7 linked regions of the Homo sapiens genome follow. The protein of the gene in region 3 purifies or fractionates together with the protein of the main gene of each other region. This does not show direct contact. Each region holds a gene or a part of one and is shown on either strand. Other genes may lie near its edges.

Region 1 (4,247 bases), on a different chromosome or scaffold from region 3:
TGTTGGACCTTACGTTTCAGCAACCTCACCATGGCCACATAACCCACAACCTTTTAAAACAGTTTCTTTCATAGCAATCCCTGTTTCTGCCAGACAGATCTAAAATGGGAGTTTCTCACTGTGTTTATCTGATCTGCACACTTTATATCCAGCTGTTTTGGCACTTTTACGTTTTCTTCACCTTTGGTTTTGGTTTGCAAATTCTTACACCTTCTCTCCAAGCGGAGGGCACACTGTGGTCAAAATCACTTATTTTATTAGGAAAAAGAGGTAACTGTTCCAAAGTGTAGTGTCCTTTGTTGAAGGAGGAGGGATGTAAGCATAGATTTGTTCTTGTTTCTGGCTATTCTCAGCTCAAGCCATGTTTAATTCATTCTTTGTAAAAGCCTTCAATTGTGCCACAGAAAACCTGGTAAGAGAATTGTCAGTTTCATTGGCCATAAGTATGTAATGTGGGTGATGTCTTGCCATTGAGGTTTGGAAGCTCTTAAGTGCCGATTATGGATTACAGAGGGCTGATAAAATTACTTATATTGGGAATTGAGAGAAGCCCCAAAAAATCAAATGTGCTTTTGATGGATAGAGTGTATCTTATTAGCATTATGGGAGCTCCTTAGAGGGCTGTCTTCACTGAAAGATTTAATGCCCAAAACATTTGGACAGATTATGCAGCCTTCTACTACCAGGTTATCTTGAATGAAGAAGAAATAGTAAAAAATAATAATAATAGAGCATTACCAATAAGCTAAAAGTTCAGAGTTGCTGATAGATGTTAAATGTTAAGTTATCCTGTGAGCCTACTCCTGTCCAACCTTTTTTCTCAGTATTTCTTTAGAGAATGCTGCAATCTGTATAAGTTACTCTGAAGGATTTTTTAAGAAGAGAAGCCACCAACAGGTGATAATTTTTATGGAGATGTTTCTTAATTGGCTTTCCCTCAGTTCAAGTAGGTAAATAACTTTGTTTGCTGGGAGGAGGTACATGGCTGAAGAGAGGCAAATAGATTAAGATAGCAATGTCTTGCACTTCCTGTTTCCCTCAAAACAACACCACATTGTGGGGCGCAGGATAGATCAGGGTTGAGTGGAATTTGGAATTCAGGTGAAGTGCTTGTAAAGTGCATGTCTAGCTGACAACAGACTTGACCATTAATGAGGACAGTGTTGGTAGGAGTCAGAAAAGAGCTTCATATTCCCCTTTTATATTACTGAAGCAATAAGCAATCTGAGCTGAAGCAGCAAAAAGAGTCACATTTCCATCAGGTCATCATATTCCCTGAGTCTCTGCAGCAAAAGCCATGTCAGAGGGGAGATTATAACTAGGTAACTATAACAAGCACTTGAGCACTTACCATGTTCCAAGCACTATCACCAAGGTACTGTTGGGGTTTATGGCAGTCTAACGGTAAGAAAAATGTGGTAAAATGAGGTAATCATGCTGCTATAGCTTTTTGCTTTTTTTCATATAGTATCAAGTTGGTCAGAATTAGCTTTCTCTGACTGGTCTGCTTCCGTGTTTCTCTGTGATGGTGTTAAGATTATGAAAGAAAAAGAAGATTACCTAAGACTGCTACAAGTGTTAACTATATGCCCTTAAGAATGAGCTTGACTTTGGAAGTAAAGCTTTTCAGATCTTAGTCTACCCGGGGCCTTTGTTGATGGGTCTGTGGTTCTGTAGACCCCTGGCTTTCACTGTGTTCTCAGAGGTACACCAGATTGAGAGCAGAGTTCTTCTTTGGAAGTCCCAGAGCAAAATAACTGCCATCAAGTGAGTTTGCATTCGTATTTGTTTCCCCTTCCATAGAGGGTTAGTTTTAGTTACCTCTAGCTTGGAGTTCCTGAGAAGGCTGGTTATAGGACTGAGCGTGGGAAAGGAACCCTCTTCAGGATTACCTCAGTCCCATCAGTCTACCCCATTGTGACATTGAGCCCAACACACACGCTTGACACCAGACTAGACTTGTCACAGGGCCAAACCCAACAGCCACATGCCATAGCTTCACTGCATTTTCAGCTACACCTTTGGAGGCCACCTTCTCCTATCAACTGTGGAAAGCCAGAAGGGCTCCCTTCTCCATTCTCCTTCCCTTTTTCAAGTCTAATAGTGAAATCTCCTGCTTACCCCAGCAGTAAATAGTTGCCTTCCTACCCCTTACCTGGGGGCCGATAATTTGAGATACTTTGTTTTTTCAATGCGTCAGTTGAAGGATTTAGTTTCTTAAAAGCAAGAAATGTTGGAGTGTTGAATTTTTAAATAGAATCTCTTTTCATGTTTGAATGATTGTTATTAGTTCTAGAAGCATTCTCTTTGTCATGACCCGATTATGTATACTCTTGGGTTTAGGAAGGACAAAAGTGATGAAATTTGCATGAGATAGAATAAATATCTTAGGAGGAGTGAAAGAACCTGAGGAAGAGACACGACCCTAAGGGAATGAATGCATAAGCAGTCTTCTCAGTAGCCCAGAGTTTCCAGGAAACAGGAATATTTATATCCCTTGCCCACTCTTAAAATACATAGATACATAAAAAGGCAGTCTCTGTAGACAACACATGCACACACCCACACAAAACATAATTCCTGGGGCTTCCTTTTTCTGAATGTTAATCCATTTTATCGAGCAGTGATTCCCAAACTTTGAGATTTTCAGATTTTATGCTCTCGTCTGTTAGATTTTATGACATTCTATCATCCTAAAAAATGTACTATATGTGTTATATGTATATATAAGTTAAAGCAACTTGAAATTGACTTGGTTTGGCATTGTCTCAAGAACCCTAGATATCATTATTGATACCATGGGGAATCATAGAAATAAAGTTGAATATCATTGATCTGAGAGTAGGATCCAGAAATAAGTAGTTTCAGTTCCTGATCAGTTAAGCCTCAAGTGTTTGAGTAACCAACACAGCAAGACTTGGGAAATGCAGTGAGCACCCGAGGAAAGGAAAGTGGTAGTCTTTGCCTGCATTTCAGCATGCATTTTCCTTTCCTACTCAGTTGCTATCTTCCACTTAAATACCCTCATTTGACCCTAGGAAGTTTTTTGTTTTTTTTTTTAGTTTGAGACTTAAAACCAGATTTATTTGTTGTTGTAGAGAGATTTCCACAGAAGTTGTGTTTTAGGGACCTCCATCATCTTTGTGGGGGTACAGATATTTATGTGTAAATATCATTTTATGTGATTTCCAAATTTTCGAGGGAAACATTTCAATTCCCAGTTCAACAAAAGGTTAAATACTAATTGACTCAATGACCACCTTCAGGAAAGTTAAATAGTAAATTAGGTTAAATTTTGACTGGTGCTTAGACATTTCCTAGTTATATTAACTTAAGCAGACAGCAGCACATTAACCTGAGTTACACCTGTGAGGAAATGACCTTCTAAATTTGATTTTGTTTTTCATCTCCAGGGCCTTAATAAGAGTGTGTTAACACACGACTATTTTACAATGATAGCTCTAAATAATTTATTTTTTATTTCAAGAAAGAGAAATACACCTTAGAAAAACAAAACCCAAGATTTTATTTTATTTTTAAAGCCATATTTTTGTGCTAGTAGCATTTAGATTATTCCGTATGTGAGATCCGTATCAGCATTTCATTACCTGGGTTTGTTCTAAAGAAGATTTATTTTTGTTCTGTGAATAATTTTTGACAGTTCTTGTACATGTACAGATATAGATACGTTTGAGGTCTTTTATTGATATTCCTACAAAGAATACAAATAAACTTTAACTTTAAACATTTCAGACTAAAGTTGCTACTATATTTGACATATTGCTGTCTTCTAGCATGCACCTGGGTGACTAGGACACTTGAAGAGAAACAAGAAAGGAAATGTATGCCGGAATATTCTTCTAAAAATATATTTTAACATTAAGAACAGTCTGTCCTAGAATTTCCCAACTTCCATGTAATAAGATTTCAATTTAGGAAAAATAACTAGCATTAGCATGTATTGTGATAAAACTGTTACTTTCGAATTCTGCAGAATTTGAAATCTCTTTAATAACTTGTGACAGGTAAAGAAAGTTTCATCTGGTTTATTAGGAAATGTAGCCCCACTTAGCTTCCTAGACCACTACCATCCTCTTGTAATTTTCCAGTTAGATTAATGGGGTTTGTTTTCAGGATTTTTGATGTTTGGTTCAGGTTTTTTATTTTAATTTCTTAATAGAAGTTCATTTGTCATTCCCAACATGATTGTTCCCAAATACACCCATCTTCTCCTGCATCCCTGTTTC
Region 2 (3,500 bases), on a different chromosome or scaffold from region 3:
TGCAGTGGTGCGATCTCGGCTCACTGCAAGCTCCGCCTCCCGGGTTCACGCCATTCTCCTGCCTCAGCCCCCTGAGTAGCTGGGACTACAGGCGCCCACCACCACACCCAGGTAATTTTTTTTTTTTATTTTGAGTAGAGACGGGGTTTCACCCTGTTAGCCAGGATGGTCTCGATCTCCTGACCTCGTGATCCGCCTGCCTCGGCCTCCCAAAGTGCTGGGATTACAGGCGTGAGCCACCGTGCCCGGCCCTAATCAATGTTTTTTAATTCAACTCACCATCAAGGTTCTGTCAAACCTGTACAAAAATAGTCCACCCAAGACAATAAAAGGTGATGCTTCCTTTGGGTTCATCTGACCAACTCACATTAAAATGACCACCCATCCAAGTCAACTGATGTTCATTCTGTAGCTGAAAAACCTCCCTTTCATTTTAACACTGAAAAATACAAGATGCGTACTATTCTAGAAATATGCCTTTAAAGCTATCCAGATGGAAATATGTCATTTCTTAGATACATATTTTAAAATCTATAAAATGTAAGTAAATCTCACTAGCGAACACTACAAAGACTTAAAATCATAAAATATTTAGGTCAAAGAAATAAGTTAGAATTTTCCCTACTGGTCAGAGTTTACTTTCACACCTCAGTCATTCATTCTTCAGGCTATAAGATCTATGAGAAAACTGAAAACAGATGACAGAAAAGAATCATTATGTTAAGCAAATAATAAATGAACAAGTAGAAATCACTGAGTAATTATTTAATCTTCAAAGATATGCATTTTTTTCTTACTTTATTCCTATGAATAATCCTGCTCAACTCAAACTTCTGACTGTTCTAGGGCCAGCAAGTACATATTTGTTGATCAAGTGACCCAGGCCCTTTAACAACTTGAGCAAAATGTATGCTTTAGCCACGTACACCCTCCGACTCCCTGGTTCTTGCCTTAAAGTCAAAGTCACATCACAATATGTCTCTTACCTGTTTCCCATCCAACGTGTACAGGCGTTTCACCACTCCCGAGTCCAGCTTGATGGCATCGGTGATATCGGTGAGGACCTGCTCAAAGGAATGAGCCGTTTTCTTGTTCAGCAGAATCCTGACAGCTTTCCGTGGCTTCACGCCACTTCTGATGATGGTGACCAGCTTGGGCCGAATGAAATCCTTATTCTCTCGCACCTCTGAAGGGCTTCCTTTGGCAGTGGCCAGTGAAGACACTGCCCGAGAAGCCGAGGTGGTCTTGACGTTCACCGACCAGTTGGGGTTCACATTCTTGGTGTACTCCAGTTTCTTGAAGGGCTCTATGGAGCCACATACATAACTCTCTCCTAAGGAAGAGAGAAATATATTTAAATTTATACTAAAATATGCCCATTTCTTTTTTCCTACTTATCCTCTCTTTTGCCTTTTCTGCTTAGGGGCAAGAGCTAGCCCTGACTTTTCAAACAATGGAAGTGTGATTAATAATTAGGGAAAAAGAAAGATTTCTGATTGCTAATCTGGCACTGTCAGCAACAGATCCACATCCTGGAAAAACAAAACAAAACATTATTCCTCCATTTCCTCATCTTAAGGTCGGTGATAGAAATGCTGATCTACTTGAAAAGACCTTAGAGAAGTGTGAAAGTGAATTTAAAATAGAAAATATTCTTTGGGAATTAGAGATACTTAAATCTGCAGAAAATTTCAAAATTGGAAGTACCTCCATTTGCTACCTGAGATAATTTAAACACTAAGAATGAATCAGAATACAGCATCTTAAAATAGTCATATAATTTACGAATTTGATGAGAGTTGATGCTAAAGATTTTGTAAAGCCCAGTAAAGTTCCAAAAGCAAGCAAATAATCACCCTTCCTTTCTCTCATCTATATAGTGCCAATCACAGTGATCCACACATACTATAAGGTCAATTCATACTTGTTCATAAGTAAGAGGTTTTAGAAGTGTTCAACATACAAACTACAGCTTCAAAAATGGGCTCTAAAATAAATATAAGTAAATGTTTATTAAAAGTGACTCCTTAGCAGGAAATCTTTTAATGAAAATAATCAGACTATTAAGTAGATGTAGATCACACACACAAAAAAGAAAAACATGAACCAAGAGACAACAAATTGTAAAATGACGAATTCTAAATACATATTTCATAAAGTTAGGTCAAAGCCTTTTGAAATTAAAGATTTTGTAATGGCTTTTTTTCTGTGTTAATAAGTTTTTGTAACTAGGAATAGGTAAAAATGCTGAAAGACCTTCATAATTGTAGGTAAAATGACCGAGGCCTAATCTAACACAGCCCATTGACTTTTATCTAAGTCCTTGTATTATTTTTAAATTCACAGTGCAAGCATCCAAGGCCAAAGAATAAGTAGTCACATAAAAATAACTGAAGCAGGCCTTCAAAAGTTAAAAAGAGCAGTTATACATGTTACTGAACACTTGTTTTGCAGATGTTCTTAAAATATTCTCTAATGTGTATACATACACATTATGCCTCACTAGAAGTTGTATGAATAGTGCAAGTTTAACCAACCCCATTTCTATTCACCTGGCAGATCATGACTTGTCTCAGCTATGCCTTCCTCAGGATTTAAGTAAATATCAAAAACTTATATGTATTTTTGATATTTTCTTAAATCCTGAGAAAGGCATATTTGGGTACTATAGAAACAGCAGTGTTTTGGGAGTTTTCATGGAGTGATGACCTGCACATGATAGTGGGAAGAGAGAACTGGAAATTCGGGCTCAAGACCTGGCCTCTCCAAGCATGTGACTTTGGACAAGTCCCTCAGATTTCTGGGTGGTAGTTTATTTATCTATAAAACAAAACCTCATTAGGTTTTTCTGAAGATCAAATTAGAAGATAGAGATCAAAGTGATCTCAAATACAAACCTGCTATGTGAGTGAAAATGACCTGAGGCTACATACCCTAATCGTGCAGTAAGCCTGAAAGAAAAATTCAAAAACAAAATTACTAGAAATCGGTAAGCAGGTCTTATATTGAACAGTTACCAGTGGACACCACGTTGGGTCCATGTCAATGTGAGAATGCCCTAACACTCCCCAGTGAGACACACAGCATGTAACTGAGCTGGCAAAGCTAGCCTCTGTCAGAATTCTGTGCTAACTGAAGATATGCAATTGTCTGATTATTTATAAGTTTCTATACTAAGCTAATAACTAAAAGCAAAACAAAGATACAGAGAGCAGTTTACATTTCAACAAAAACTTTAAAAATATATTAAATTAGAAGAGGGAGCAGTTTTAAAGAACATAGCAACATGGAGTGAGTTTGTTAAAAGAGAAAATAAACACTTTTTAAAAATATCTTCTTAGATAAAGCACCCTGAAAATGTTTAAAAGCATAAGAAAGTTCTCCAGTTACACTGAGAAGGCGTTGCTGGTTTGGTTCAAGCAACAATGATCAGAAGAAATATGTGTTTAATCTGAGCTGTAAATGTGAGGCTCCTCTGCTGGATAATCAGATTTAAAGAC
Region 3 (4,224 bases):
ATGTTAAGCCCTACTCTGCATGTTAACAGCCTAATTCCTTGGTCATTAAAATTTTCTTCTCCATTACCTTAAACATACCTTTCTCTGACATTTCTAATATACAGTAATGTTCTTAGTCTTTTGATACAGAAGGTGAAAAAAAAGAAAAAAACCTAACAATTACTGAGTTTTTAACATGGACCTGACATTTACATTGATACTGTGTTCAATGCTCATAATAACCCTACAACCTGGACACAGTCCTCCCCATTTTACCTTCAGGGAAACTGAGGTTGAAAAGGCAGTCTGTGTAAAGTTTCATAATTAGCATTAAAAAGAGCTGGAATTTGAACCTAGACCTGATTCCACCTAGTCAACTGACTTGCTGCATCAGAGATAAGCAAGAGAAAACAAAAGGAACCCCTCCCCCTTGTCCCTACCTCCAAGACTGTCCTATTCAATGGAACCTGCACACTTAGATTTCACCACAGCCAGGAGAACATCTTGAATGCCCTGCCAGGAGGGAAAGCCAGCCAGTAGTAACCAAAGCTCTGTCTTCTCCAACAACTAGAGGAGCACTTAAGTGGGTAATTTCCTGTCCATCCCCATTCCTAGCTACAGGCAGAAGTTGCATAATCAACAGTCACTATAAATCACAACTACTTTTCATAACTTCTCTCTTCATATTCTCTTTCGGTTTCACCACAAGCTAACATATTTCCCAAGCCTAAGTTTTTATCACAGAGTAGTCTAGTTTCAAGATCAATAAGGCTATTCTTCATACTCATTTCACGCTTAATACAATTCCATGCCTTAGTAAATTCCCTAACCCAAGTGCTCAGAATTAGCGATGGGTTCCACAAAACACATTTGAGAAATGTATTTGTCAACCTGCTACCTTGGAGAGCAACAGAGAGATTTGATGGCTAGCCATCTGAACTTTTACTTGCTGGATTTTAATACTGGTTCTGACACTCACTGCTTCATGTCAGGCAAGTTTCTGAACTTTTCTGTAACAAGAAGGGTAAGTGTCCTCACGCATACTCTGCAACTCTAAGTTGGCTTCTGGAAAGTGTTTCTAAGTGCTATTGAAATCCAAGTTTACAACTCTTACTTGGAAGCAGGAGCTAAACTTGAGTGCCTCTTTAATCCCAATGTTTCACAAACGACATCTTTTTACCTCCCAAGCCTCTCAAGCTCTTGTTTGGAGCATGCTTCTAACTTTTTTCTCATTTCCACAAAAATAAAGATTTAACAGAGTGTTCATGCGACTCTTCCATTTTCATTACCATAAGCAAACTTTTCTAGTTTCATTCAGCAGATGTCTCAAGGCTGCTGCAGCGCATCTCATACATATTTTGTAAATGAGAAGCCTAACCACACGGGGGACTGCAAGGCTGGGCAAGGGTCACACTGCACGGGCATCACCTGGACATGAGATGCAATGTTTGAATAATTATTAGTTTCACCCTTAAGGCCCTTCTCCTTTCAAACTTCCCTAGTACAATTCTCAAAATGCTGAAATAAACACATTCCACAAACTTTCTTGTAAGAGGGTTTAAAGTGTCCTAGGAAAGTTGTTTTACAGAAAAGCCTATGCTGTCAACTTTGCTTTTTAATGCCCTTAAACAATTCTATTAGTCACAGAGGAAAAAGTGAACATTTGTTAGTAATTAGAGATAAAACATCTCCAGTTCTGGGGCAGAGGAAGGGAGAGGCCACAAGAGGACCTGGCTGGGAGGGGAGATAGAGTCGAAAGCCACACACCCAAATTGGACCGCTTAAGAGTTGCACTTTCCAAAGTCAACTTCTAAGTCTACAAGGACAGCAACAATGTTTCAGTGGATTCTGAAGTTACATGTATCAACAATTTCCCCGGAAAGCTAACCCTCCACCGGGAACTCCAGGTGAATGAATGAGTGAGGGAATTCGCCAGATTGAGTTACAAAGCCTTTCCAACGATTATCAAGAGCAGGTGCTCGGTTACAACACAGAGGTATCCTCCTTCACAGCCTTTGGACCTTGCTGCGTGGAGATTTTCACAGATAAGAGGGGGGAAATAGAGAGACAGGCCTTCCTCCCCGGCCATCCACACCTTAGGTGGCCACACCATGAGCGGCCCCTCCCTCTAAGAACCTCACGCGACTTCTGTGGGGGCCGCAGGCCTCAAGCGGCCAGGCTGCAACCTCTCCGGACCTGCCAACTTTCAGGGGCGCCCCAAACATGCCCAAACATGGGGAGGTGCTTCCGGGGCTTTCCCACTCCCCTTCCCCACAGTTGAAGGACCATTTTCAGGGGCTCTCCGTAAACCCGGGGAGGGGGCCGCCCTGTAATCTCAGCTGTTCCGACCCCCAGGTGAGGAGGGGACACCTGACCCCCGGCGCCCTGCCACCCCGCGCGCACCCCGCCCCCGCGCCTCCCTGGATCGCCATAGCAACCGTCCCCCTCCCCGCGTGCCGGCGTCACGCGGGGCGCCCCTCTGGTCTCGGCAACAAGTCCCCCGCGCGGCCCGCGGCCTGCAGCCCTGGCCCGGCCTCGCCGCCCCGCGCCCGGCCCGGCTCCGCCCGGCCCGGCCGCACTCACTTGATCCTGGAGCCCATGGTCCCCAGGCCTCCTCATGGGCCCGCGGGCCCCGCTCGGCGCTGCGCTGCCCGCCCGCCCGCGGCCGACCGGCCTCCCTCTGGCGCTCTCCCCGCCCCTTCCTCCCTTCCCTCAGGCTGGGGCCCGCCCGCTCGAGGCTCGCTCCCTCGCCGCCGCCGCCGCCTCCAGGGGTTAATGTACTCGCTCCAGCCCGGCGAACGCCATGGTCGCCGGCGCGCGTGCCCGGCGCGCGCCGCCCCCTCCGCCTCTCACCACCGCCCCTCCCGCCCGCGCTGCCGCCGCCGCTGCCCGCTGGGGCTGCTGGGAAGTGTAGTCCGCTCGCGGGGGCGGGGCCGTGGCCGGTGGGGGCGGGGCGGGAGCGCGGTCACCCGCACGTCTCCCAGGGCGCGGGCCCCGGAGGACTCTGGCGTTCCGTTGCAGGCCCTTACACATCTGCACCCCACTGCGCCCCGCTGGAAACCTCCACTCACAGCCGCCCTGAAGAGACCCTAATCCTCTCATGGAGACCCCAAGCCCTCCCGATGAAACCGCCACCAATCCTCCCATTGGAGGCCTCCCACCCAGCCTCTCTAACGGAGAGCTAATCCCCCGCCCAGGCCTCCATGAAAACACGTTTTCCCTTTAACATCCCGCACCTTCCAGTAAGTTCCGTGCAGAACCTCTTCTCCATCACACCGTCCACTTCCCCATCTGAAGGCCTTTCCTCTTCCTTTCCCCTTAGAGCTTGAAGGAGACCCCACATACCTACAGGAAAGCCACCTGGGGGCTTCGTGGACCCACGTGGTGGCTCAGCTCTGCCCTCCCGCTGAGGACCTCTGCCTCCCTTTATCAGCCGTTTTGGGAACTCCAACATCGAAGCCTCCTGTTAACACAACAGTCCCTGATAGAGATTAACTCAATGCAAATGAAAGGATTTGAGAGCCGAGATCACCAGCCTGCTACCTACCCCTGCTCCCCCTTGGGATTCACTTCCATGAACACCTCAATTTCATCCCCTCTAGGGCCAGAGGGATCATAAAGGAAGCAATAATCACAGCTACCATTAGCCACCCTTTAATGAGCGGGTGAGTGCCCTTTCTGCATCAGACACAGTATTTCCGTACATCATTAGTGCCAATCCTCACAATAATCCTGTGTTCATCTCCCTAATTTACAAAGAGGAAACTGAGCCACATTCCCAAGGTCACATAACTAGCAACGAGTGAAGAAGCCAAGATTAGTGTCCAGACTGAATCATTCCAGACACCTGTGACATAGTCATGCTTTAAGGTGGCACCTTTGGCCACAAGTCCAAAGACATTTTTAATATTAGGCTTTTTTTCCTTTTTTTTTTTTTTTTTCCAATTTTCTGTCCCGAAATGCCATTCATCACTTCTGCCATTTTAGTTCTTATAAATGCATGGAGTGCCTCCCCACCCTACCCCCACCCCATAGCCTCTACGTAACTGGTCCTGCGTCCTAGCTCCCGGCCAGGATGGGAGGAAAGAAAGCCAGAAGATAAGTCGTAGAAGACTTCTTCTGTTGGAGTCACCTTCTGAATAAAGATAGTTTCTCCCTTTTGCCTCTGCCTTTAGGTTGTTGAAGTCAAAGGGTAAACTTTTTAAAATGAAAACCAAAAAAAAAGTGAAAATGTCCAAACTGTCA
Region 4 (3,500 bases), on a different chromosome or scaffold from region 3:
TATGTGTTGTTATTTCTGTTTTACAGATGAGAATCTGAAACACAGAGAGGTTAAATAACTTGCCCAATACTATATAGCTGAGAAGTAGAAGAGCTAAGTTTCCATTTAGGAATGCTAGCTCCAGAACCTGTGCTCCTCATCAATATGCTATATTGCCCTCTCACTCAAGGTAGTATTGGCAAGGCATAATTAAAATGCATGTGCCCATCATAAAGCAAGTACAATAGATGTGGATAAACCTGGACAACTCACATAGATGTTAAGTCTGCATATATACAAAAGATACAGTTATTTGCAGTGTGAACATTTCTCTTTAGGAATTTGTTTTTTAACTTATTTCTGGGATTATGCGTAGAGGAGTATTAGTACTTTTTATGTGGTTAAGGAAATATTTGTGATGGTGGTTGGTTTGAAGGGAACTTCAGAGGTAAAAAGTTAATTTCAAGTAGTTTAATATAGTGTGTGTGTGTGTGTGTGTATATAAATACACATTCATACACACACACACAGCCTTTTTAAGAGCACCAGTAAACCTTTACTGCTTATTTTCTGTAGGGAAATTAAGGATAAATTACAATATTTTTCTTCCTACTCATATTTTTATGACCTCTTTTTCATTTATATTAAAAACTACCATAATTAGCACAAATGGATTAGATGCCTATGTACATTTTACCTCTAATGTCAACAAATGTTTGTTCAGATTTTTCTCACACTTAAACATTGTTTTATAAGATATTGACCACATATGACAAAGTATTTATAAAAATGTGTAAAATATAAAGACTTCACAATGCAGCCAACACTTACATGCCTTTTACCCAGTTTAAGAAATGGAACATCATCTTTCACAATTATAATAGTTATTTTCTTCTCTTAGCCAAATTGCTTCTGCCATTCTTTTTCAACAGAAACCTTTCCTTATTGTGCTGCGAATTGCATATCTCATGTAACCAAACACTTCCCTTTTTATATACATTTGTTGATATGGGAATTCAATATAATCTACTGCTTATGGCTAAAACTTATTCAGCATATATGCTTACGTAATTTAATATATTTAATAAATTGTCATACACTCAGACTATGCTTTGTATTTGTATTGGTTACTGGTTGGTAGTTCATTTTAGCATACTTCACTTGTAAAACTTAATTTGGTTTGCAAATTAGGATTTTACTAACATTGTTAAACATTAATAGATTATTTCCCTCTTCCATCATGAATTCTTGACTGTCCCACGCTAGCTCTGTTTTTTCTTCTTTTCCCCATAACTGCCTTTGCTCTTTATTTCTTAAGTGAGTATGAATTATTTTGAATGGAGAGGGAAGGAGACCCTAGAAAGGAGTATACTAATCCAGTCATTTCAAAGGGGACTATTAGGGTAGTTGGTACTGATTGAATATATGGTAGAACAAGTGTGCATAAAAGAAATGCATGAAAATCCTCTCCTTGTCATATTTCTTCCTTTTACAGTAGAATTAAAATGAGATCTGAGACACTCTGATTGGGCACACTAGCTGAATATTGTTGGATTGAACTTACCCAGAATCACCAATGTTAGCTGGGATATTTTTGCTGACAGTACAATATGCAGATTTTAATTCAGGGAGCTAGAACAAGCTGTTGCAGAGGGCTGTTTACTCTTCTAGTACTAGTCTAATCAAGGCACCAAATATTATAAAATAGTTTGGAAGCTAGTTCAATTATTTGGACTTTTTTTTTCTTTCTGAATGACTTGAGACTCAGCATTGTTATATTTGCTTAATGTGCCTGTAGTCATCAAATGCTGTGATTATTTTGAGGGAAAGGCACTCTGTAAATATACTATACAAATAAATAGTTTAGACTTCGTTGTAATACCGTGAGAATACCGCTTGGTTTCTTTGAATAGCGTCTTTTGTAGTAACTTGCATTAGATGAAGACCGTTTAAAATGAAAAAAAAAATGAGTTAAGGAGATGTGTGTATGGTGATGCAGAGTGTATATCCCTGATGAGTTTCTTGAAAAGGCCACGGAGAGAAATAGGTTAAAGAAGAGCTTAAAGACTAGAGCTGTGTTTTCCCACTCAGCAGTCTCCTGCTGCCCTTCGCTTTCCCTTTCTTTTCTCTTTTCAAGACAGGATCTCACTATGTCTCCCAGGGTAGGGTGCAGTGGTGTGATCTTAGCTTATTGCAGCCTACGTCTCCTGGGCTCAGGCGATCCTCTCACCTCAGCCTGCTGAGTAGCTGAGACTATAGGCACGTGCCACCATATCCAGCTAATTTTTGTACTTTTTGTAGAGACAGTGTTTCACTCTGTTGTCCAGGCTCATCTCAAACTCCTGGACTCAAGTGATCCACCTGCCTTGGCCTCCCAAAGTGCTGGGATTACAGGTGTGAGCCAACTGTGCCCAGCCAGTTTTCTTTCTTTTAGAGCAGGGGTCTCTAACCCCTGGACCATCATGGCCTGTTTGGAACCAGGGTGCACAGCAGGAGGTGAGTGGCTGGCCAGCCAGCATTACTGTGTGAGCACCTCCTCCTGTCAGATCAGCAGCTTCATTAGATTCTCATAGGAGCTTGAACCCTATTGTGAACTGCTCATGAGAGGGATCCGGGTTGTCCGTCCTTATGAGAATCTAATGCCTGATGATCTGAGGTGGAACAGTTTCATCCCCAAACCATCTCTGCCCCCCTACCCTCTGGAAAAATTGTCTGGAAAAACGTCCCTGTTGCCAAAAAGGTTGGGGACCGCTGTTTCAGAGGACATTTTACTTTGCGTATTTAAGATTCAAGGTAATATTAGATGGAGAACAGGAACTTTGGGTCTGAGTTTTAGAAGGCTAAAGCAGGTTACGCAATTAGTGAAAAAACTTTCTGGGACCTTTTTTTTTCTAGAAGGGTCAAAGTAACTATAATACCATAATTTTTTCTGGAAACAAATTTATTAGGTCAGTTTATTTTAAAAAATCTTTATAAATTATGTGAAAGCTGTGTTTGTGGATATGTCATATAAGTTGTTTTTTTGTTGTGGGCCACACATGACGTATCTTGTTATGTTCGGTCTCTTGTTTGCTCTTGAATAGTTAAAGGTAAGCATTACTAAATTTAAGAGTCAAAATAATTGTGTTAGTGTTCTATTATGCCTTTTCTTCCCCGTAATATCAATTTCTGTCTTTATTCACTACATGGTTTATAGTGCATCTTAAACTCCTTTCTTTGTTTATCAGAACTTAAGAGAGTCTCATGTCACTCATTTAAACTGAGTAGTTGCATTATAGAAATGATCTTGTTGGTGTGTTTTTTTAAAAATCCAATTGCTGAGGAAACACCTTTAGTGTTTTTGTCAACTTTGCCTACATTTCTTCCATTGCGTTGCTTCCAGAGTGATCTTTCTAGATAGTCATTTGATCATGTCACTTTTTTCTTCAGAATCTTTCACTGGCTCCTCATCACTGAATGGATAAAGTGGAAACTCCTTAGCAAACCGTTTAAGGTCCTTAATGATCTGGTCCCTGCCTCCT
Region 5 (3,928 bases), on a different chromosome or scaffold from region 3:
CCCCCCTCGCAGTGGCCCTGTTCGGGCCCTGGCCTCCCCATCCACTTGCAGTAGGCAGCAGAGGTCCCTGGGGGTGGCCCCCGGCGCTGGCCGCAGCCCCCCGAGACCGTACAGGTGCAGGCTGAGGCGGCCCCAGAGTGCGGCCGGGGGTGCCCGGGCTGCGGGACCCACCTCGTAGGGCCGGAAGGAGGTGGGTGATGGGGGCCCAGCTGGGCGCTCCGGTGAGTCCCCGTCGCTGAGGTAACCGGCCCTCGGGCTCCGGGTGCCCCCAGGCCCTGCTGCCGGCCCGGGGCCCCCCACGCTGCTGTCCAGGTGGTAGCGGCTGATGACGGAGCCCGCAGGGGCAGCCCTCTCGCGCTCCCTGCCAGCCCGGGGGCCTCGCAGGCTCAGGCGGCGCCGCAGTTCCGGCAGCTTCTTCATCTTTATGGAGAGGCGCCTGGCGGGGCCCGGGGACTTGGTGCGGGAGGCTTTGGTTGGGGGGCTGGCGGGGGCTGCACCTGTGTGGAGAGCAGACTTCAGGGTCCAGGAACCTGGGCTTAGGGGAGGGGGGTGAGGCTGGTGCTCCCCTGAAGGGAAGGAGTGTGAGGCTGGTGTTCCCCTGGCGGGGAGGAGGGTGTGAGGCTGATGCTCCTCTGGGAGCATCTGACGGGGTGGGGATGTGAGGCTGGTGCTCCCCTGAAGGGAAGGAGTGTGAGGTTGGTGCTCCTCTGGGAGGAGGGAGTGTGAGGCTGGTGCTACCCTGAAGGGAAGGGATGTGGAGCTGGTGCTCACCTTGGGGAAGGGGATGGGAAGCTTGTTCTTACCTTGGGGGGCCAGGCCCTCTGACTCAGCTGAGCCAGGCTGTGGCCCCGGGGGCTCAGGTGCTGGAGGTCTGGGGTCTTCCTCAGGGATGGGGTTGTACCAGATCTCGCCGGCGGGCTCCCCAGTGCCAGGTACCCCAGGCCCTAAAGAGGTGTCCTCAGCTGGCTTGGCCCCACCCAGCACCCATCGGCGGCTACTGGGCTCCAGGCTTTGCAGGTAGGCTCCCCGTGCAGGGCTCCTTGATGCCTCGGGGCTGGAGGGCCCCTCTGCTCCGGCCTGGGACCCTTCGGGAGCCTGGGGCTCTGGCTCTGGAGGGCTGGGCTCTGGGCGCTGGGCTGGGTGGCCTGGCAGAGAGCAAGGGGAGTGAGACCCACCCAGCCCCTCACTGCCTGCAGAGCAGCCCTGTGCAATTGATCAGTGGGTGGGATGCTGTGTACGGCCCTGGCCGGCCCCTGATAAGTCATGGTTCCTTGGATCCTGCTGTTTTGTTTGGAATAGGCAGCCACAGGCTAGCGATCTCAGTTATCAGCTTAGAGCACCCCCTACTCAGTCCCTGGCATCCCAAAAGGGGACTCCATCCCTGCAGCCTCAGGGTTCTAAGTCAGGCTTCCTGGGGCCCGTAGGTACTGCGTTCCAGTCTCCACTTCCTCTACCCTCTCAATAACCGTGGCATGGAGCTTTGCACCTGCGTGGCCTTGGGCAAGTCGCTTCCCTCTCTGAGGCTCAGTATCCTCCTGTGAAATGGGGGGATGTGATTTCCATGTCCAGGGAGGCTTCCAGGAGCCTTTTGGAAAAGTATACAGCCCACAGCAGGCACTACGTGCTCAGGAGTGAGGAGCTGGGTTTTCTATTCCCTGCAGCACAGTCACTCCCAGTCCCCTGCCCCTTTTACCCTCCCTCCTGTCTTCCAAACTCTGTCGCCATCCTGGGATGGGCCCTTGTCCCTCAGCCCAGGCCAGACCCCCCACGCTCAATGCTTTGGGACTTCCCCTTCCCTCCCTCCTCTCCTGTCTCATGTCCTGGGCTGTTTCCTGTGTGTGTTTGTGTTTGGGCATCTCTGTCCCTTCTCCCTTCCCTGGGAACATTGGGAATCTTTGGGAAGGCCTGGGGGGAAGGGGTACGTCCATGGAATGGTCTGGCCTTCCTCCTTTAACTCCTTCCTTCCTGGGTCCCCCTATCCCACGCAGCTGTTTCTCTAAGGTTTTTACTTGCTACCCTGCTGAACTCCTCCTCTGGCCACCTCTGATGTCCACCCTCTAGGGTCTCTGTTTGTAGCATAGTCCAAAGAGCTGTTTAAGTCGATGGCCCTGGGCACATGACCCAATTGCTCCGTGCCTCAGTTTCCCCATCTGTATAAAAGGGACAGTTTCCTGGGGCTAAGGCAGGCGCAGTTGCCGTCACTGTTAGTAGGTGGGAGGCGGAGGGGGCAGCTACTCTGATTGACGGGCCGCCCCTCTCTTTCCTTTGCAGGAGTACGCCTCCCATCTCCCATCCTGCGCCTCCAGGGCTCCCGATGCCCCTTGCCCAGCCCGACTGGGCCCCAGTGTCCCGGCCTCCCAGCCCCTCCTCCCCTCCACCCTCCAGGCCCTCAGTCGCGGCCCCATTTCCTGTCGTGGGCGAGGCCCCCTCCCGGGCCTCCCAAGGAGCCCGCAGCGCTGGCATCCCCGGCCAGCAGCACATAACGGTCCGCGCCCCCCTCCCTCCCAGCCCCTTCCTTCCAGGACCCCTACCCTCCCCTGGCTGGAGGCACCCCAGTCTGCAGCGGGGTGCGGGGGGCTCCCCCTGATCCCCCCCACCGTCTGTCCTCGGGGCCCTGGGACCCCGCTCCCAGGCCGGGTGGGGCTCGGCGCCCCCTGTTCCCCACCGATCTCCGCTTACCGCGCTCCTTGGCGTCCGACTTTTTCCGGGGAAGTTTCTCCCGGCCCCGCAGGCGGGAGAAGGTTTTCCTGAGTAGCGGCTCGGCCATGCTGCGGCCCGGGCCGGGCCGAGCCGAGTGCGCGCCCCGGGCTCCGGCCGCGCCGCCCCGCGCCCTCCCCGCCCCGCCCGGGCCTCCCCGCCCGCCCCCCGCCCCGCGCCAGCAGGAAGCACATTCCGGGAATGCTTGGCCCAAACTTTTTTTTTTTTTCCCCTTTCCCGCGGCCCGAGCGGGCGATGCTGGGAGATGTAGTTGCCTGGGGCCGGGAGGGGTTGGAATGGGGGCTCCGGGTGCCCGGATCCGCTCCAGCTTCGATGGGACGTGACGATCGTGGCGCAGGCCCGATCCCTTGTCTTCCACCTCACCCACCCTCCCTGGATGGGACTCTGGGTGATGGCATCCAGGAAGTTCTCTTGGGTCTGTCTCCAAATCGCAGCCTCCACGTATCCTCTCTCTCCTTGCCAGGTACTGCTTCAACCTGGTGCAAGCCGTAGTGTCATTCGTTTCAATGACCGTCCCCACTACCCACCCCACCCCAAGCTTCTTCCTTGGTCTCCCCATGCCACTCTTTCCCCACTCAATTCTCTCACCTCCAAATTCCAATTACTACTGCTGTTTGACAAACCATCCCCAAACGTAATGATGTAAAACAACCATGTCGTGATTGTGAAAGGAAAATAAATCTTGAGACCTCCAAATCACTGAGCCAAAAGGAAGAAGTCAAACTGGTAACTGTGTAGGACAAACCTGCCTCCCATTCTATTCCTAAGTAAGATAGCTACAAGGTTAAAAAAGCTAGCTGGGCGCGGTGGCTCACTCCTGTAATCCTAGCACTTTGGGAGGCTGAGGCGACGGATCACTTGAGGTCAGGAGTTCGAAACCAGGCTGGCCAACATGGTGAAACTCCATCTCTACTAAAAATATGAAAAAGAAAAAAAATTGGCCAGGCATGGTGGGTGGGCACTGGTAATCCCAGCTATTTGGGAGGCTGAGGCAGGAAAATTGCTTGAACACGGGAGGTGGAGGTTGCAGTGAATCAAAATTGCACCACTGCACTCTAGCCTGGTCATCAGAGCAAGATGCCGTCTAAAAAAAAAGAAGAAAAGAAAAGAAAAAAAAAGCTACATACCTCCCCCACAATTTGCCTACAAGGAAATTCCTTATGGATGAAGGACAGGCAGAACTCAAAATTGTCCCTCTGCTCACATGAGA
Region 6 (3,500 bases), on a different chromosome or scaffold from region 3:
TATGGCTCCTGAAAGCTTCCCAGTTTCTGGTTCATGTCCCTCATGAAGTCAACTGCTCTTTGGTTCTTTACAGTACTCCTGCCTCCAAAGCATTCCTCCTTGTTTCTTGCCAACAAAAAATTATTATGACAGTTTAAGACACAAATTCACACCAGGGTCAATGCAGAAAGGGTATGTTACTCTTACTGTTCATAAAGGATCTGACAGGCACCAGGGAAGAAGTTTCTTCTCACTACCCAAAACCTCAGGAGAAATAATAGGGCAAAAATAACTAAAACCTAAAAGCAGAAATTACCTATTTGCAAAAGCCCTCAGGCTTTGTGCTTCCCTTCCACACTTACCTGTTCAAAAATTCTGCTGGTTCACAGCAGGAGATTTGAGCAGACTTTGTTCAGATCCTTTTAACGCTGTAAATAATAAAAATATTAATATAAATCACCCAGCAACCTCTTAGGAAACTTTAAAAGTACAATCTTTCATCATAAATATACTTTGCAGAAAATGGCTTCCAAACCTGGTTAAAAGAGTAGATCACCTGGTGTATTTATAAACTAGGTTCCCTAACATCTAGAAAGTCTCAGTAGTTCTACAGTGGGACTGAAAACTATATTTTTTAACAAAAGTCCTAAGTGATTCTTATGAAGCTGTCAAATGAAGACCACCATGGGGTTTCAGGGAAGTCATTATTTGGGGTTTTCATTCAAAACCCCATTATAGGGACTTGGTATTAACTTTTAAAACCTACTGCCAGGCACAGTGGGTCATGCCTGTAATCCTAACACTTTGGAAGGCCAAGGAAGGTGATCGATTGAGCCCACGAATTCAAGACCAGCCTGGGCAACATGGCAAAACCCCACCTCTACAAAAATTAGCCAGGCATGGTGGCACATGCCTGTAGTCCCAGCTACTCGGGAAGCTGAGGTAGGAGGATCACCTGAGCCCAGGGAGGTCAAAGCTGCAGTGAGCTGCAACTGTACCACTGCACTCCAGCCTGGGTGACAGAGTGAGACCTTATCTCAAAAAATATATATCTAACAGAAAAACAAAAGCCGCATCACAGCAATATGCATCCTATGCAAATAATCACTGAGCCCTCAGAAATATGATCATTGCCAAAATGTCCAGGGAGCAAAGCTCCAAGTGTGCAAAATCACAACCTGCCTTTAATGCTCTGTTGGGGCAATATCTTAAAAATCCATAAGTTGGTGATATTCCAAGTGACAAGAGTGAATTGAAGTATAGTATCTTCAAATAGTTTCTTGGCTAAAATCAAATGATGCTTTACTGCTACTAACAAGTCAAAGAACAATAATTAACAATTAAAGTTGACAATTTCATTAACTACAGGAAAGCAACTAGATAGAGACAGATAGAGTTTTTTTTCTTTTTTTGGAGACAGAGTCTCGTTCTGTTGCCCAGGCTGGAGTGCAGTGGCACGATCTGGGCTCAAGGCAACCTCCGCCTCCCAGGTTCAAGCAAGTCTCCTGCCTCAGCCTCCCGAGAAGCTAGGATTACAAGTGTGCACCACCATGCCCAGCTAATTTTTGTATTTTTAGTAGACACAGGGTTTTGCCATGTTGGCCAGGCTGGTCTCAAATTCCTGACTTCAAGTGATCCACCCACCTCAGCCTCCCAGAGTGCTGGGATTACAGGCATGAGCCACTGCACCCGGCCAGTTATTTTCAAAATGGGATCTTGCTTTGTTCCCTCAGCTGGAGTGTAGTGGTACAATCAGAGCTCACTGTAGCCTTGACCTCCTGGGCTCAGCCTCCTGAGTAGCTGTGACTACAGGCGTGCACCACCATACTCAGCTAATTTTTTAAAAATCTTTTTTAGAGATGGGGGTCTCTCTCTGTTGCCCCGGCTGGTCTCATGGCTCAAGTGATCCTCCTACCTCAGCCTCCCAAAGTGCCGGGATTATAGGTGTAAACTACTGCACCCAGCCAAAGAAGAGTTTATTATCCATTTCTTCTTCCCTTTCCTCCTGCCCTTAAAAAATTACACAGTTCAGTGGGTAAAGTTGGATGACCTTTGGACATTATAACATGGCTACTTTTTTTGCAAAATTAAATCAGAAGTGGATGTGACTTTCTCAAATTGCATTCTTGGTGGGGCACAGTGGCTCATGCCTATAATCTCAACACTTTGGGAAGCTGAAGCGGGAGTATCACTTGAGACCAGAGGTTTAAGACCAGCCTAGGCAACATAGTGAGACCCCATCTCTACAAAAAATATTGGCCAGATGTGGTGGCATGGACCTATAATCCCAGTTACTTAGGAGGCTGAGGTGGGAGGATGGCTTGAGCCTGGGAGATTGAGGTTACAGTCAGTGGTGATTGCACCGCTGCCCTCCAGCCTAGGTGACAGAGCAAGACCCTGTCTTTTTTGGAGAAAGTCTTGCTCTATCACCTAGGCTGGAGCGCAGCGGTGCAATCACGGCTCACTGCAACCCCAAACCCCCAGGAGACAGGGTCTTGCTCTATCACAGGCTGTAGTGAGCCAAGATCAGGCCGCTGCACTGTAGCCTGAGCAACACAGTGAGATTCCATCTCAAATAATAATAATAATTAAGCTTAATGAAACCCCATAGTTAACAAGAAAATATAAAATTGTGTTCCTTATTTACTTAAAGTAGGGAAGTATGTAATACTTTGAAATACCTTTATAAAATGAAGTTTGGTCAATTAAGAGAACATTCTTTGTTTTTCAAACCTCTTTCTGCTTTCAACCTCACACAAAACTATAGGCAATTCAATAAAGGTATCACTTTACATTCCTACATAATTAATTTAGTATATTTCTCATTCATCTGAGAGCATGAATAAAATGTAAAAACAATATTTGGTCAAGAAACACTGCAATGCTAACTATAAGCAAGTTTATACATGAAATAAAAATCTCTAGTTTTAAAGAGATGTAATTTTTCAAAGTATTAAAAATGAATGGAAACTCTAGGACTTTTTTATCTTATTTTAAACTTCTATTTCTTTTTCATTTTATATATTTTTCCTTTTATTCTTAAATACTCTCCCATGCAAAAACCATAGGACTTTATCACCACAAAACCCTAGTGGGAATCAAGCAGTGAAAAAAAGCTTGAGTTCAGACTGTTACAACAATGACCAAACAATATGCCATGGTAATTTAAACTGAAGGAAAATGGACATTTAACTTGCCTCTAAGAGACCTGGGTTAACACCAACATAGGCTGTAGATTCAACCTAATGAGACTGGTCCCACTATAATCTATAAGAAATAGAATAAAACAGAAAGTATGGGAAATTTAATCAGCAGGAGCTAATGGAGAACTGCAAACAAAGTCAAAATTTGAAAATGGCACAAGTCAAAGATCCTACAGAAGGGCAATCATAAAAGCGACAGTAGTAATCTTTTTACCCAAAAAGGTTCTCCCAGATAGCAATCACTATCAACAGTGTCATCTTCCAATGTGAAGGTCAACAAAAAGAGAAGAGACAATATGGAGTATTAAAATGCAGAGT
Region 7 (3,500 bases), on a different chromosome or scaffold from region 3:
AAAAAATCACCCATAATCTTACTACTTAGAGATAACCTTTGTGAATTAGTGTATTTCCTTTCAATGAGTTTTCTTTGAATCTACATGTATATGTACATAATTGAGATAAGACTGTACAAATAATTTGTATTTTTTTCATTTTTTATTGATTACTATACTGTGATCATTTTCTTACATCATTAAAAATTACTCAGAAGCACAACACAAGCTGGGTGCGGTGGTTCACTTCAGCCCAGGAGTTCAAGACTAGCCTGAGCAATACTGGGAGACCCTGTCTCTAGAAAAAAACACATTTTAAAAAAATTAGCTGGGCACGTGGCATATGCCTGTGGTCCCAGCTATGCAGGAGGCTGAGGTGGGAGGATCGCTTGAGCCTAGGAGGCAGAGGCTGCCGTGGGCCGACATCACACCACTGCACTCCAGCCTGGGCAACAGAGTGAGACCCTGTCTCCCCACCCCTCAAAAAGCATGACATATGCAAGTCATACAGTATTCCACCACATGAACAGAATTCAGAACTCTCCCCTCAACTGTGCACACTTTGTAAAAATTGTCACTGGAGCCGGACACGGTGGCTCATGCCTGGAATCCCAGCACTTTGGGAGGCCGAGGAGGGCGGATCACAAGGTCAGGAGTTTGAGACCAGACTGACCAACATGGTGAAACCTCGTCTCTACTAAAAATACAGAAATTATCTGGGCATGGTGGTGTACGCTTGTAATCCCAGCTAGTGTCAGGAGGCTGAGGCAGGAGAATTGCTTGAACCCGGGAGGCAGAGGTTGCAGTGAGCCGAGATCGTGCCACTGCACTCCAGCCCGGGAGACAGAGTGAGACTCTGTCTCAAAAAAAAAAAAAAAAAAAATTGTCACTGGAAGAAACAGTGCCCGGATGTATGTCCTCACATAGAATCTTTCTTAGGATCTGTGATTGATTATTAGAGTGATGATCAGAAGGGGGAAAATATGAGGTTAAAGTACACAACGTTTTTAAGCTTTTTGCTCATGAAAAAGAGTGAATTCACTTCCACTTCTGCCAACTCACAATGTGTGGGAGTCTGAGGCCACTCAACAGCATGGAACCAGCGCCATCAAAGGAATTTTTGCTCAATTGGAGAAGCAAAGATGGCCTGTAATTTATAACTGTGTCCCCCGCTCCCACCAACAATTCACATGTTTAAGTCCTGACACCCAGTACTTTAGAATGTGACTGTATTTGGAGACAGAGCCTTTATGGTGGTGTATTAGCTTAAATGAGGTCACAATAGGGTTAGTATCTATATGAGAAGAGGAAAAGGCTGGGCTGGGAGGCTGATACCTGTAATCTCAACACCTTGGGAGGCCGAGGTGAGAGGACTGCTTAAAGGCAGGAGTTCAAAACCCATGGGCAATATGGTAAGAACGTAAGTCTACAAAATTTTTTAAAAACTGCCATTCATGGGGGTGGCATGCCTGTGGTCCCAATTACTTGGGAGGCTAGGGTGGGGGGATTGCTTGAGCCCAGGAGTTTGAGGTTACAGTGGGCTATGATTGTGCCACTGCACTCCAGCCTGGACGACAGAGCAAGACTTTGTCCCAAAAAGAAGGGGGTGGGGGGAAAGGAGAGAGCTACCAGGAGCGAGTGCAGAGGAAAGGCCCTGTGAGAACATAGGGAGAGGGCGGCCGTCTACCAGCCGTGAGAGAGGCCTCGCCAGGAACCATTCCTGCTGGCCCTTTGATCTTGTACTTCCAGCCTCCAGAACTGTGAAAAAATAAATGTCTGTTGTTGAAGCACCCCTGTCTGTGGTATTTTGTTATGGCAGCCCTAGCACACTACACACAACTCTTATTTAATGTGCATTACATCACATGTATGACTCATGAGCAAAAGGGAGTATCTGTGTGATTTTGGTGTAGTGTCTATATCTCACTCATTCACCAACTGCACCCATCAAAAAAGTCAGATCAAGGCTGGGCGTGGTGGGTCATGCCTGTACTCCCAGCACTTTGGGAGGCCGAGGCGGGTGGATCACGAGGTCAGGAGCTCGAGACCAGACTGACCAACATGGTGAAGCCCCGTCTCTACTAAAAATACAAAAATTAGCTGGGCGTGGTGGTGCGCACCTGTAATCCCAGCTTCCTGGGAGGCTGAGGCAGGAGAATTGCTTGAACCTGGGAGGCGGAGGTTGCAGTGAGCTGAGATCGCACCACTGCACTCCAGCCTGGGTGACAGAGCGAGACTCTGTCTCAAAAAAACAAAAAACAAAAAAGTCAGATCAAAAACATGCAGAAACCTGCTGCACTCTACCCATGCTGCTGTAGAACGTGCTGCTGTGCTGGACTGACCCATCCTGCCTTGCGGGTGGAGACAGAAGAGCCTCCAGCTGGGTGTCCCACCTCTGGGTGCTGTCTCCACTTCTGGGCACACACTTGCCTTCCCTATCTGGGGAGCCTCCCTGCCGGCAGCTTTCTGCCTGCCTCTGGTGGGAACCTGCCTCAGCAGAAGCCCCAGGGGTCCACAGGCAGCCCCTAAGTGGGCGTGGCTTCTCAGACGTAGCTCCTGGGTGGCACAGGCAGGGCCTCTCTGCACAACCACTTTATCCTTCTCTTTCACTCCTTCAAGCATTGTGACACATGCTTCAATAGGAATGTAAATAATACTTTTCCCCAGTAGAAATTAATCAGAATGGTTCGAAAGAAGTCCTTTGACAAACTCCTGCCACATCAGACCTCAAAGTTTAGGGTCCAGTATTTCTGTGTTAAGTGAATAAAAACACCAAAGGTTTGGAAATGGGGAAACCCTACAAGCCATCCCGTTAATACACCGCCTTCTCTCCAGAAGATGATGGAAATGAAAAAAGAGGGATAGCACCAACCCTGCTTGATAAGGGGCAATCACAAAGTTGCAATTTTCAGAAACTCTAGCAAGTACTGTACAAGGAGGACCGGCTGTCTCTCCGTAAGGCCCTCTGCTCTTCAATCAGAGTTTCCCATTAGGAACTGTTTCCACTTGCAGATCGAGAACAACAGCCTTCTGCCAGAAAGATGCCCACGGAAGCAGAACAAAGCAGAGAGTGCCTCCTGTGGCCCCGTCCTCTGCCAGGCGTGCCGACCACCTACCCAGATCAGGAGCTGCGCCAGGACCACATTCCCCTTGCGGCAGGCCAGATGCAGCGCCGTGCGGCCGTCTCCCTCCCCGCAGGTCTCGTTCACCTCGTCCCGGGAGCCGTGTGCCAGCAGCAGGATGGCCGTCCGCAGGTCCTCGTCGGCGGTGGCCCGCAGCAGGTGCTGGCCCAGGGACAGCTCCGTGCAGGGCAGCGGGGCCAGGAAGAGCTTCTGCTCGTACTTGGCACGGATCCACCGTTCCTTCTCTTCCCTGCAAAGAGCCACCAGACAGGTGCAGTCACGATCAGGCCCGAGAACACAGGCTGCCAGCCCCTGCCCAGTGTGGTCGGGAGAAGCCGAGAGGGAAGTGAAATAACAGAAAGCAAAGGTCTTCACTCGGCACAAAGCCCCCTGGGGGAA

The links.
Region 1: the proteins of DENND1A (region 3) and RASAL2 purify together in Homo sapiens (affinity purification with mass spectrometry, with the first as the bait; one large-scale study listed by BioGRID). This does not show direct contact.
Region 2: the proteins of DENND1A (region 3) and DCLK1 purify together in Homo sapiens (affinity purification with mass spectrometry, with the first as the bait; one large-scale study listed by BioGRID). This does not show direct contact.
Region 4: the proteins of DENND1A (region 3) and TANC2 purify together in Homo sapiens (affinity purification with mass spectrometry, with the first as the bait; one large-scale study listed by BioGRID). This does not show direct contact.
Region 5: the proteins of DENND1A (region 3) and SYDE1 purify together in Homo sapiens (affinity purification with mass spectrometry, with the first as the bait; one large-scale study listed by BioGRID). This does not show direct contact.
Region 6: the proteins of DENND1A (region 3) and GIGYF2 purify together in Homo sapiens (affinity purification with mass spectrometry, with the first as the bait; one large-scale study listed by BioGRID). This does not show direct contact.
Region 7: the proteins of DENND1A (region 3) and AGAP1 purify together in Homo sapiens (affinity purification with mass spectrometry, with the first as the bait; one large-scale study listed by BioGRID). This does not show direct contact.

What each region holds. Positions count from the first base shown.
Region 1 is NC_000001.11:178,475,104-178,479,350, forward strand, and holds the end of RASAL2 (ras GTPase-activating protein nGAP), read left to right. Parts: 3' UTR 1-3,747; downstream 3,748-4,247. UniProt on the Homo sapiens protein: Inhibitory regulator of the Ras-cyclic AMP pathway.
Region 2 is NC_000013.11:36,110,883-36,114,382, forward strand, and holds part of DCLK1 (serine/threonine-protein kinase DCLK1), read right to left. Parts: intron 1,334-3,500; coding exon 987-1,333; intron 1-986.
Region 3 is NC_000009.12:123,927,327-123,931,550, forward strand, and holds the start of DENND1A (DENN domain-containing protein 1A), read right to left. Parts: upstream 2,801-4,224; 5' UTR 2,599-2,800; coding exon of another isoform or gene 2,580-2,598; coding exon 2,563-2,579; intron 2,340-2,562; exon of another isoform or gene 1,331-2,339; coding exon of another isoform or gene 1,269-1,330; intron 1-1,268. UniProt on the Homo sapiens protein: Guanine nucleotide exchange factor (GEF) regulating clathrin-mediated endocytosis through RAB35 activation. Promotes the exchange of GDP to GTP, converting inactive GDP-bound RAB35 into its active GTP-bound form.
Region 4 is NC_000017.11:62,969,235-62,972,734, forward strand, and holds part of TANC2 (protein TANC2), read left to right. Parts: intron 1-3,500. UniProt on the Homo sapiens protein: Scaffolding protein in the dendritic spines which acts as immobile postsynaptic posts able to recruit KIF1A-driven dense core vesicles to dendritic spines.
Region 5 is NC_000019.10:15,106,273-15,110,200, reverse strand, and holds the start of SYDE1 (rho GTPase-activating protein SYDE1), read right to left. Parts: upstream 2,801-3,928; 5' UTR 2,768-2,800; coding exon 2,680-2,767; intron 1,146-2,679; coding exon 804-1,145; coding exon of another isoform or gene 498-803; coding exon 1-497. UniProt on the Homo sapiens protein: GTPase activator for the Rho-type GTPases. As a GCM1 downstream effector, it is involved in placental development and positively regulates trophoblast cells migration.
Region 6 is NC_000002.12:232,700,331-232,703,830, reverse strand, and holds part of GIGYF2 (GRB10-interacting GYF protein 2), read right to left. Parts: intron 3,247-3,500; exon of another isoform or gene 3,177-3,246; intron 408-3,176; 5' UTR 342-407; intron 1-341. UniProt on the Homo sapiens protein: Key component of the 4EHP-GYF2 complex, a multiprotein complex that acts as a repressor of translation initiation. In the 4EHP-GYF2 complex, acts as a factor that bridges EIF4E2 to ZFP36/TTP, linking translation repression with mRNA decay.
Region 7 is NC_000002.12:236,120,043-236,123,542, reverse strand, and holds part of AGAP1 (arf-GAP with GTPase, ANK repeat and PH domain-containing protein 1), read right to left. Parts: intron 3,352-3,500; coding exon 3,096-3,351; intron 1-3,095. UniProt on the Homo sapiens protein: GTPase-activating protein for ARF1 and, to a lesser extent, ARF5. Directly and specifically regulates the adapter protein 3 (AP-3)-dependent trafficking of proteins in the endosomal-lysosomal system.